2 separate regions of the Homo sapiens genome follow, and region 2 is linked to region 1. Evidence: fine-mapped expression QTL. A gene starts in region 1. The other region holds a variant in brackets. All regions are shown on one strand. Distances are from middle to middle.

The links. PIP is the estimated chance that this variant, and not a neighbour inherited with it, causes the effect. A credible set is the group of variants that fine-mapping cannot tell apart.
Region 2: its variant is the best candidate, but not a certain one, in a credible set for the expression of UQCRB in thyroid (GTEx, PIP 0.88).

What each region holds. Positions count from the first base shown.
Region 1 is chr8:96,233,279-96,238,659 of GRCh38, forward strand. It overlaps UQCRB (ubiquinol-cytochrome c reductase binding protein), which reads right to left and starts at 2,267. Exons shown (of 4, transcript NM_006294.5): 1 at 2,234-2,267. The coding sequence starts at 2,252. UQCRB-AS1 (UQCRB antisense RNA 1) reads left to right here and starts at 2,015. Exons shown (of 2, transcript NR_183275.1): 1 at 2,015-2,283; 2 at 4,629-5,381. RefSeq lists an enhancer at 1,994-2,273.
Region 2 is chr8:96,353,987-96,359,367 of GRCh38, forward strand. No RefSeq gene overlaps it. Among named protein-coding and RNA genes, the nearest start is that of PTDSS1, 95 kb to the left of the region's middle. The variant C/T (reference allele first, on the strand shown) is at 2,981.

The sequences.
Region 1 (5,381 bases):
ACATTGATAGGCAAGCAACCAGTACTCAGTTATCTTGCTGATGAATGCAAACATAGAAATAAATTTCCTTTTAAAAGTATATAGTATATACAGCAAGAATTTAATCAAAAGAATTAGATTTAAAAGAAAAAAGTTTATACTCTATAAAATGTTGATAAAAAGTGCTTATTTTATTTATGAGCAAAAGTGGTTGCAGGAAAATGGTGGCAAGTCATGAAAGAAAAGGGTAAACTCAAACACTGAATGTACAAAAGATCCATAGGTACATCGTGTGCCCTTATGCCTGCCCTGTTACCTTCAGAAATGAAGGGGTGGGAGATAGGAAAAGGACTTGGAAATTTCCATCATTTGTAGTTTCATAAATAGATCACAGGAAATAATTGTAAACTTTTCATTTCAAGAGAGCTGGAGTTGTAGGGAAAAGACAGTGAGATTTCAGCATAGACTGGCAGGTCTAAATGACCCTCATCCTCTAAAATTTTTACTCGATATTACAGTTATTTCATTTGGCCACATTCTTTAAAAATGTATGTATTTTGGGGAGGATTTTGATACCATTAGTCATTTAAACATTAATATGGATTCGTAAAAGAAGTCCATTTACCTCCTCCTAAGCAACTAAGTTCCCCCCAAGGGAATGGATATTGAAAAAGGATGAGAAATAGGTAATTTTAAAACTGTTTGGGGAACAGGGCTGAGCCTGATGAAGTAACCCAGCAGGGTCCAAGTACAGCAGGACCGTATCTGACATTTTAGGAGAGACATTTTACAAAAGGAGAGGTAGAACAGGTTTGTATTCTCTTTTAAAATTTTGTCTAGGGTTAGCCCTTACCAAGGAAGGAAAGCAAACTCTCCTTTCACTCAACTCTCCTTGCTTGCAAACTCAGTGCACTACAGATTACGTGGCTTTAGCAAATCTCCTTGGAAATTAAGAGTCATGTATAAAACTGCTGCTAGAAAAACAAGTATCAGTCAACAATCTACAAACATACTTGTGGAAGACAGATTATATTCAACCACCTATCAGTGACTATAATAATATTCACTAAGCACTTATTGTGCACCAAACACTTTCCTATTTGCTTTACCAACATTAGCTGATTTATTTACATGTCTGTTACTACAGAAGGGGAAGCTGGCTTACAGAAGTGATCCCACCCAAGGTCAGAGTTAGCTAATGGGAGTTGAGATCTGGTCTATGTAGTTCCCAAACACGCACAGAAGCAGTGTCTTGAATTTAGTAAGACTCCTTCAATATCTGCCAAATTAATAAAATAATTATTTAAAAAGTCTCCCCCACCCCCAAAAAGCTCAATGTCAATTAGGTTAACGGATGTTTCTGGCAACCTGATGTTTCCTAACAGCTTCACAATTGCTGGGGGCGGGGAGAAAAGGATCAACATTTTTTAAGCTACTCCAACTTGGTTGCATTGCAGTGAGACGAGATTGTGCCATTGCACTCCAGCCTGGGCGACAAAGCAAGACTCCGTCTCAAAGACAAAACAAACAAACAAACAAAACGGCTACTCCAACTTGTACCGCCAGAGGGCAGAGATTAGCAAAAAAAAAAAAAAAGAAAGAAAAAAGAAAAAAAGAACCTACAATAAATTCAAATTTCTCCAAACCTACTGATCAAGCTGACGCTCTAGATAATCCAAGGTCAACCTGAAGCGTCGCTCGTATCCCTTGCTCAACTGTCTCTGATTCGCAGTTTGAGAAGCGCGAGGGGTGCAATGATATTTCCAATTCTACTTCCTTGGGTCACTTTGCCTCAGTTATCTTATCAGCGTAAAAGGGAAATTAATATCTCCCTCGTCGCAATGGCAAGAAAATTTATAGGGCCAATGCACACGATAGAGCACTTGGGTCATAGAAAGCACTGAGCTCATTCGGGTTGAAAGTCATCCACTAGTTATCCTCTTGTGCCCTTTAACTTTTCTAAGGCCAAGGGGAAGGACTTCCAAGCACGGGCAGCTGGAACTCCAGGGCTGTCAGAGCCACCGCGGGCACCTTCACAAACAGCGGGTTAACATCCCAACCCTATACAGGCAAGCCCGCCCTGGGGACAGCAAACGAGTGGGGAAGCACATCCTTTTCACTGGACTGAAGCAGCCAATTTCCCTTCCGCGACAAACTTGGCCACTTACAAAGAAGAGAGAAAACGGAGCAAGCTGCAGCAAAAATAAACGGTGAAGCGCGACGATGCCGGCCAAGAAGACCCCCAGTTACTTACCGGCCTGCTTACCAGCCATTTTGACCAGAAAGAGAAGCGTTGCCTTCTGGGTAAGTCATAGAGGACAAGCTGGGCCCAGTCCGCAGGCGCGTTACGTCACATCGCGAACAGAGAAAGGCCGCTTGCGCAGGCGCAGTTCTGACGACTGCCGTTCAGCACCTGCGTAAGCACCTCTCGGCCAGGGTGAGGCCAATGGAGTAGGCGGGGCATTTTGCGTGCTACATTCTAAGAAGTATTGGTTGTGATGTGATGGGAAGAACACAGGTCAGGAATTAGGAGACCAAGGCTTAAAGCTGGGTTCTGTTATTTGCTGTTAATAGCTATGGGAGCGTGGACAGTATTAATTCAGCTCTTTGTGCCAGGCAGGAAGCTAAATGTTTTAAGGGCATCGTCTTACTTTCTATTGAAGGACTGATGGATGTGCCATCCCAAAAATATATGGAATTGGTACATTGATTATTTCGAGTTGAAAATATTGGAGAAATTGTAGTTTCAGAAAAGGTTTGATGACCTATCTCTTCCTGCATGCAGCAAGCCATAAAGCTTCCTCCAGGATTCCTCTGGAGTACCCGTCCCTTACCAGAGGGAGAAAATAGCACCTATCACCAGAGACGAAACTGGGGGCTGCTTTGGACCTGAATATACTTTCCGAAGTAACCGTTATCTTCCACTAAGTTTACACCCCAACACACACACTTTTCTCCTAATGACTCCGCGAGAAATTTACTGCCCCTAGCCAGATCCCCTTTCTTCTGATTTGTAGTTCGTGTAAAAAGTATAAAGGCATCTTACATTGGCCACTTCACTCTTTTGTGCGGATCCCCATGTACATGTAAAACTAGTAAAATTAGTATGCTTTTCTCTTGTTAATCTGCCATGTGTCAATTTGGTTCCTAGATTCAACCAAAGAGCCCACATAAGAGCAAAGGGGAGGGAGGGTTGGAGGTGATCTCTCACTCCCCTAAACTATCTTTTAATTCTAAAAGTACTGTAATTATCTCATTGTAGAGAGGAGAAAGCTGAGGCTCAGAAAGGTTGAATAACTTGTCCAAGAGCACATGACTAGAAGAGTCCAGGTTCTTCTTCCAGAATCTGAAAATCCAGATGCAAATTTGGGGCTCCTTAATTCTAGGGTCATATGCTATACTGCTACACTACTAATCCAGGAAAGACACCAAGCCTTTCAGGCCTTGGGTTTCTCCAGCTGAAGATCTATATCTAGCTATTTTAGTGGAAGGTTAGGTCAGAAAAGGTTTTGGGTTTTTTTTGTTTGTTTTTTTTCACCCTTTTTTTTGTTGTTCAGCCTCTGTCACCCAGGCTGAATGGCACAATCTCGGCTCACTGCAACCTCTGCCTCCTGGGTTCAAATGACTCGTGCCTCAGCCTCCTGAGTAGCTGGGACTACAGGTGTACACACTACCATGCCCGCTAATTTTTGTATTTTTAGTAGAGACGGGGTTTCACCGTGTTGGCCAGGCTGGTATCAAACTCTTGACCTCAAGTGATCCACCCACGTCAGCCTCCCAAAATGCTGGGTTACCCGCGTGAGCCATCATGCCCAGCAGAAAAGGTTTTTAAAGATTAAATCTAAGATGTATTGCAGAATTTGCACACAATTTTAAGACAAAAGAGAAGTATATAGATTTTCTCACTTTTAAGGTCTCAACCCCAACATGCGAAGTCTTAGGCATAAACATCTAGAGACAGAAAACAATTAGGGGGAGCTAGCATGACTGATAGTTACTGGTGAACTTCTACCATTACTCAGTGATATCTTTTTTTTCCCCTCAGTTTTAAGCTCAGAGCTGGGACAATATAGAGTAGAACCTTGTCTCATCCTAAGTTCAAAAGGTTAGATTTAACGATCTTAGTCACATTCCAGTTCTAAAATTATATTGATTTTCCTTTTTCTTCTATCTCCATGCTGTCACAATTTCTTCATTAGTCAGTCCTGTATACAGCACTAAAGCTGATGAATGATCTATCTTACACTAGCCAAAGTGAAGTCTGAAAGATGTGAAGAAATGCAGTACATTTGTACATTGGCACATTGCCCTGCAGAGGGTAGGTACTCAATAAACTCTCCTCCCTTCCACCCTTTAAGTTTTAGCTTGCTGGTTACAGGTGAAGGTGGCAAGAAAAGACATATCAAAAGATCTGAAACCCAAAATTGTCACAAAATCCAGCTCCTAAGGAATTAAGCTAGAGAGACTGAATGTTTGCTGGTAGTGATTGTTGATTCAAAAACTATTTTTGGTTTTCTTTCCTCCCAGCACAGGATTAGGGATTGCCTCTCTGCCCTATTAAAGTTAGGCATGGCCATGTGATACTTTGGCCAAGAAAAATGTGATAACTTTTTAAGAGCAATTCTTCACATTCCTTTCCTTTTCCATAGACTGGCAACACTCCAGAAATGATGGAGACAGGATACATCAACCTGTATCACTGAAGATGATGTGGAGCAGAGCCTTTGTGGTCCTAAGAAACATGTATAAGATAAAAACTTTTGTGGTTTTTCAATCATTTGAGGTTTTAGGATTGTTCATTGTATCAACACAACTTGCCTATTCTGACTGCTAAGGTTGTTCACTGGGTTATTCATAAAGGCAAAATGAGGTTGTGAGCCACAGAAAGAGAGGACAGGATGGTTCCATGGTGTCCCCAGCTTATTTTTTATTGTTTCCTGTTTATTGATCTCATCCATTGGAGAACTCCATGAAAGCACATATCTATGCCACACTCACCACTGTATTATAGAACTCAAATGTCGGTTGCATGAATAAAATATGTAACAGGAAGGCCACTATACCTGGCCCTGACCAATTACAAATTTAGTTTTTCATGAGGTTTTTTAAAGGGCATCCAGCACACCACAGAACCCTGTGCACAACAAACTACCCCCAAAGTTAGCGGCTTAAAACACTTTCTCCCAATTCTGAATTCCGCTGGGTCGTTCTGCTTAGTGTAGTATCTACTAAGTCTGGGACATCCCAGATAATTTCTTCATGCATGTCTGGTGCTCAGTTGGCATGTCTGAAAAAGCTGGGTTTGGCCAGACATCTTTCTGTCCACCTAGTTTCTCCAGCAGAGTAACCAGACCTCTCTACACAGTAGCTTAGGGTGCCAAGAGCAAATGTTCCAAGAGGGC
Region 2 (5,381 bases), 120 kb after region 1:
TTTAATTCTTAAATCCATGTGTATTATATGAGAAATCTAATCCGTATGTTTCTTACTCATTTACACTTAGCTCATCAAAGCGTTTTCTCTGAAGAACTATTTGATGTCCAAGGAGACTGTAGAGACTTTTTTCCTTTTAACAAGACTTTGTTCTTAGAAATAAAGAAGCTGCTGAAGTTGTATATGCAAAGGATAAATGAACTTGAACCCCAGAAAGGTTAAACTTTGTTTCAAGTAGGTTCTGTATTCTGAAGAAACAACTTTGGGAATGAGCTCTTTTTCAAGTTTTGTTTTTTGGTAGGGGAGGGGAAGGGGCCTCCACTTGGATGCTTGAATTTTTTATGCCAAAAGAATTCCCCCTTCAATGGATGGTAGGCACTATTAGGGAATCAAGTCCATCTCCTCAAGGCACTCTGAGACGGTCTTCAACTTTTAGTCAGCAGAGACCACACTTAATATTGATCTCTATCTGGTAATTCACGGCAAAATCTGCACAGAGGGAGATGCATCCTTCTGAGAGTCCAGCATGTGTGTTGGGAAGAACAGAGCCCACTGATGAGAGAAGTGCCATGAAACCATCGGCTGGGCCACCTCACCTGTCCTCTAAGCAAGACCACACCCAAGCCAGCTCAGATAAAGTGAGCTAATAATTAACTTCTTTCATCCCCCACACTCTGAGATTTCTTCCTGAATTTGTGAACATTTGTCTCTATCCTTCACTCATGTCACATTTCATTGCCTGTCTCCTAGTATAGCAGTGACCTGGGGCTATAGGGGATGGGAAGAGGTGCAAGATGCTGTTCTTGTCCCTGAGAGGTTCATCATTTATTTCACTGAGATACAAAAACCCAACTGAGAAGATCATCAGATGTGCTCTTGGTGAGTGTTCGGGACTTCCAAGAAGGGAAGGATGGCCAGGGAGTGACAAAATGGGAAAAGCTTCCCAGACCAGGTGGGCCCTGGAGTTGTGAATGACAGCCTGAGCATTGATGCAGCCATATCCAGGAGAAGACACTAGGCACCCAGGGCTGGCATGCATCGGACACTCCTTCAAATTGATGTGTTAAAAATCTTTGCTTGAATTTCACCTGCTAGAGAGACTGAGGCTGAGTGCAGAGGGCATGCAGGACTGAGGGGCCAGGGCGGACAGTCTCTATGGCCTCTGCAGTTCCCAAACACATCCACCCCACCCGCAAAACCAGAGCTGTACAGTCAGTTACCTGCTGGCTCAGTGCCCATCAGTTATTACTTCTCATGGCCCTCGGGAACTTTACAGTCCACCGAAAGTGCTGTTTTTGTTTTCTAGTAAATACATATTTTTTTGTCTTAGTCCATATCTAGTGAAATGAGGTCTTAGCTCCCCTTATGGTCTGTTATGGGATAACTGTCTGACTGAGATGACAGGAAATTTGTGCAAATATTTGGCTCAATGTGTAGAGAGAAGGAACAATGCTGAAGAAGAGAAAACATGGTCTAGGGACCCAGCAGTGGCTGTTTCTCCTACAAGCCAGCCTAGTCCTTGGTGTCTTACAAGCACATTCTTAATTATCTATAACAGCACCACAGAGCACATATGGTGAAGCCTATTTTATAGAGGAAGAAGGAGGTACATAGAGGCTAACTCATTTACCCAGAGGCAGCTAATAAGGAGTGAAGTTTGGATAGGAACTCATGTTTCAGGGCGGGCGCACTGGCTCACGCCTGTAACCACAGAGCTTTGGGAGGTGGAGGCAGGAGGATCACTTGAAGCCCAAGGAGTCTGAGACCAGCCTGGGTAATATAGCAAGACCTCATCGCTACAGAAAAAAAAATTAGCCGGGCATGGTGGCTCATGCCTAATAGTCCCAGCTACCTGGGGAGGCTGCGGTGGGAAGATGGCTTGAGCCCAGGAGTTCAAGGCTACAGTGAGCTGTGATCATACCACTCCACTCCAGCCTGGGTGACAGGGCGAGACCCTGTCTCTAAAAAAAGGAAAAGAAAAAAAGAAACCCATATTTCAGTCCGTGACAGACCGCATATACAATGGTGGTCCCATAAGATTATAATGGAGCTGCCCTATACAGATGTACCATTAAAACATTTTTATCCCATATTTTTACTGCACCTTTTCTATGTGTAGGTGTGCTTAGATACACAAACACTTACCATTGTGTTGTAGTTGTCTATAGCATTCAGTATGATAACATGCTGTACAGGCTTTTAGCGTAGGAGCCATAGGCTATTCCACATGGCCTGGGTGTGTAGTAGGCTATACCACCCAAGTTTGTATACATTCACTCTATGATGTTTCGCACAATGGCAAAATCGCCTAAAGACACATTTCTCAGAACATATCCCATCATTCAGCAGCTCATGACTGTGCAGGGCTAGGTCAATACAGGATAGCTCTTGCTGATCCTAGCCTGAGTTTGTCCACTAGGCTATGCTGCCTCTCACTCAGATGAAAGGGAAGAGCTCTTGGTGGAGACTTCTGGAGGACTGTAAAGGAACATTGGGCCTGACTGCAAAGAACTGAATGCTGACCTCATGCTTCCCAGTTTTCATGGGCTGTGATGAACAGGATGGAGTGGCGGTGGCAGACTAGAGTGAGGAAGAGCAATGAGGGGCCACTGAGAAACCTGCAGATCCAAGGGAGAGGCAGGGAAGCTGGAAGCAGGGGAAATGGGAGGCCATGAGCAAAGAGAGAAGAGGCTTTGGTGATTCTGCCTTATGTAAGGGTCGGGGTGGGGTTGGAGAAAACACTGGTGACAGTGAAACTAAGATGTCAAGGAAAGGCATGGGTTTACAGGGAAAAGGGCTGAGTCTGTTGTATTTGAAGTTCTGGAGAAACTTCAGCATCTAGCCTTCTGGTCTGTGCTGGAGAGTGGTTACTGCTGGACCAGAGGACTCCCCTCACGTTGAGTTACTGAAAGCCATGGTGGGAACCGCGGATGGATGAGACCACCGGGCAGAAAAGCCGAGCAGCTCCTGAACAGTGAAC[C/T]TTTGGGATCACCACACTGTGTTTCTCACAATTCAGTATCGCTGCTTCTCAGTGGAGGCTCTGCTGCCTCCATGGGAGAGCACTGGAAAATAGAGGGGATGCTTTTGATTGTCCCAGTGGTTGAAGGATGGTATAGGCCTTCGATAGATATACAGTGACACAGGGAAACAAGATGTTCTGCAATGCACAGGGCAGCTCTGCAAAGTGAAAAATTTCTCTGGGGTCCTCTTGATTTGTAAATATCTCATTGGGCTTTCATTTAGGTGAAAAATCTATTTTGAAGTCTCTTAGCCCAGAACCTAATTACAGTTTCCATATATACCTATATATTTTACTTCATTTAAATTTACATGCATTTTTGTAAGAATGTAACCATATAAATAGAGAGAAAATTGTACTTTGTTTTGTTGGAATTTTACTGAGCTGTTTCATTTCAGGACATCATGTTTCTGCTGGCAACATCACTCCTAAAATTTGAGTTACTACTCTGCATTGATACCTATCCCATTAGTGGTGATTTTACATATTCATTGAAGCATCTGATTATTTTGTATTAAGTGGTCATGTCTAACAGTAAATTAAAATATATTTTTTCTCTATAGATTCCTTTCATTTATTCTATATACTTACAGTTAGGTTATTATATTGTTCTTTTTTAAAAATTATGTGTGCATATGAGTTATTTTATCTATACAGTTTATTTCAGGAGAGTGAAGAGAGTGTTACAAATTCATTGTGGTAAGGAGGGGTTGGAACTGATGAGGTTGAGAACCGCTAGTTCTAAACTAGCACTATCCAGTAGAAATATAATAGGAACCACAAATACATTTTACATTTTCTAATAGTCACCCTAAAAAAAAAAGGATGGAATATTACTCAGCCTTAAAAAGAAAGTAAATCCTATCACATGATATGACATGGCTGAAGCTTGCGGACATTATGGTAAGTGAAAGAAGTCAGTCACAAAAAGACAAATACTGTATGATTCCACTTATATGAGGTATCTAAAATATCTAAATTCCTAGAAACAAGAAGTGGAATGTTGGTTGCCAGAGCTGAAGAGAGAGGCATATGGGGAGTTTTTTAATGGGTATAGAGTTTCAGAGTTGCAGGATGAAGAAGTTCTGGAGATCTGTTTCACCACAATGTGAACATATTTAACACTACTGAACTGTACACTTAAAAGTGGTTAAGAGGGTAAATTTTATGTTAGTGTTTTTTACTATAATAAGAAAAGAAGAGCGGGCAATACTAATTTTCATAACATGTATTTATTTAACTCAATATATTCAAAATACTATCATTTCAATATGTAATCAATATAAAAATTATCAATGAGATATTTTATATTCTCTTTCTTGCACAAAGTCTGAATTCTATGTCCATTTTACACCTACAGCACATATCAACCAAGACTGGCTGCATTTCCAGTGCTCAAATGCCATACATGGCTAGTAGTTAACGGCAAATGCTAACTACACTTGTTGAGCAGACCTTCAGCACCAGGCACTGCTGTGGGTCCTTTACATAGAATTACTCTTCCCATCCTTGGCCCTATGAGATAGGCACCAGGAAATTGAAGCACAGAGACCTTGAATAGCACACTTAATGTCAAGAGAAATTGTGGCCAAGTGGAGAGCTGAGCCTAGGCATTCTGGCTCCAGAGCCCGTGCCTTAATCACTGTGCATAGGCACCCTTGTGGGGTTTTTCTCCTGGACTCCTGTTCTGGCCAAGTGGGAGTCCACCCAGCCTCTTTTCCCAGTGGGATACTAGGATTGTGCTTCCCTGGGCTTGCTCTTCCATGGGCTCACATATTCCATGGAAGCACACTCCTAGCATCTCCCTGGGAAACTGAACCCTGGCTGCACAGGCTTTAGGGAGTCAAAATCTGGCTGGCCCCCAGGGAGCCAGTTAGGCTTGTCTCTCCCTGCTTTCCTGCTAAGCATAGCAGACGCTGGCCAGCCCGTCTGCACGGAAGAAAGAAGCCTGGGTTTGCTTCACAACCGCCTTCAATGTTCTCTATTCTCTGCATTCCCATTAGGAGAGGTAGTGGGCCTGGTGAATCAAGACAAAACACACAGATGTGGCAGAAAGACGGTCCCAACATGCACATCTAATAACGACTTGCCACCAGGACCTTGCTGGTGAATCACTTGCATTTCCAATAACTTTTTCTCCTGAGTTTCCCTTAATAAAGACAGATTTCTTCATTTCCTGGGGCTCCCTCAAGATTATACTGACAACTTCTCCATTAATTATCAAATTATGCCCCATCACAAAATGATTACATCTGCTTCCTACCTAAACACTTCCCCTCATTTGTGAAAAGTCTCATTTAAACTAATATGCTTTTAACTTGCTCAATTTCAACACCTCCATAGAGGCTACTAATGAGCTGAT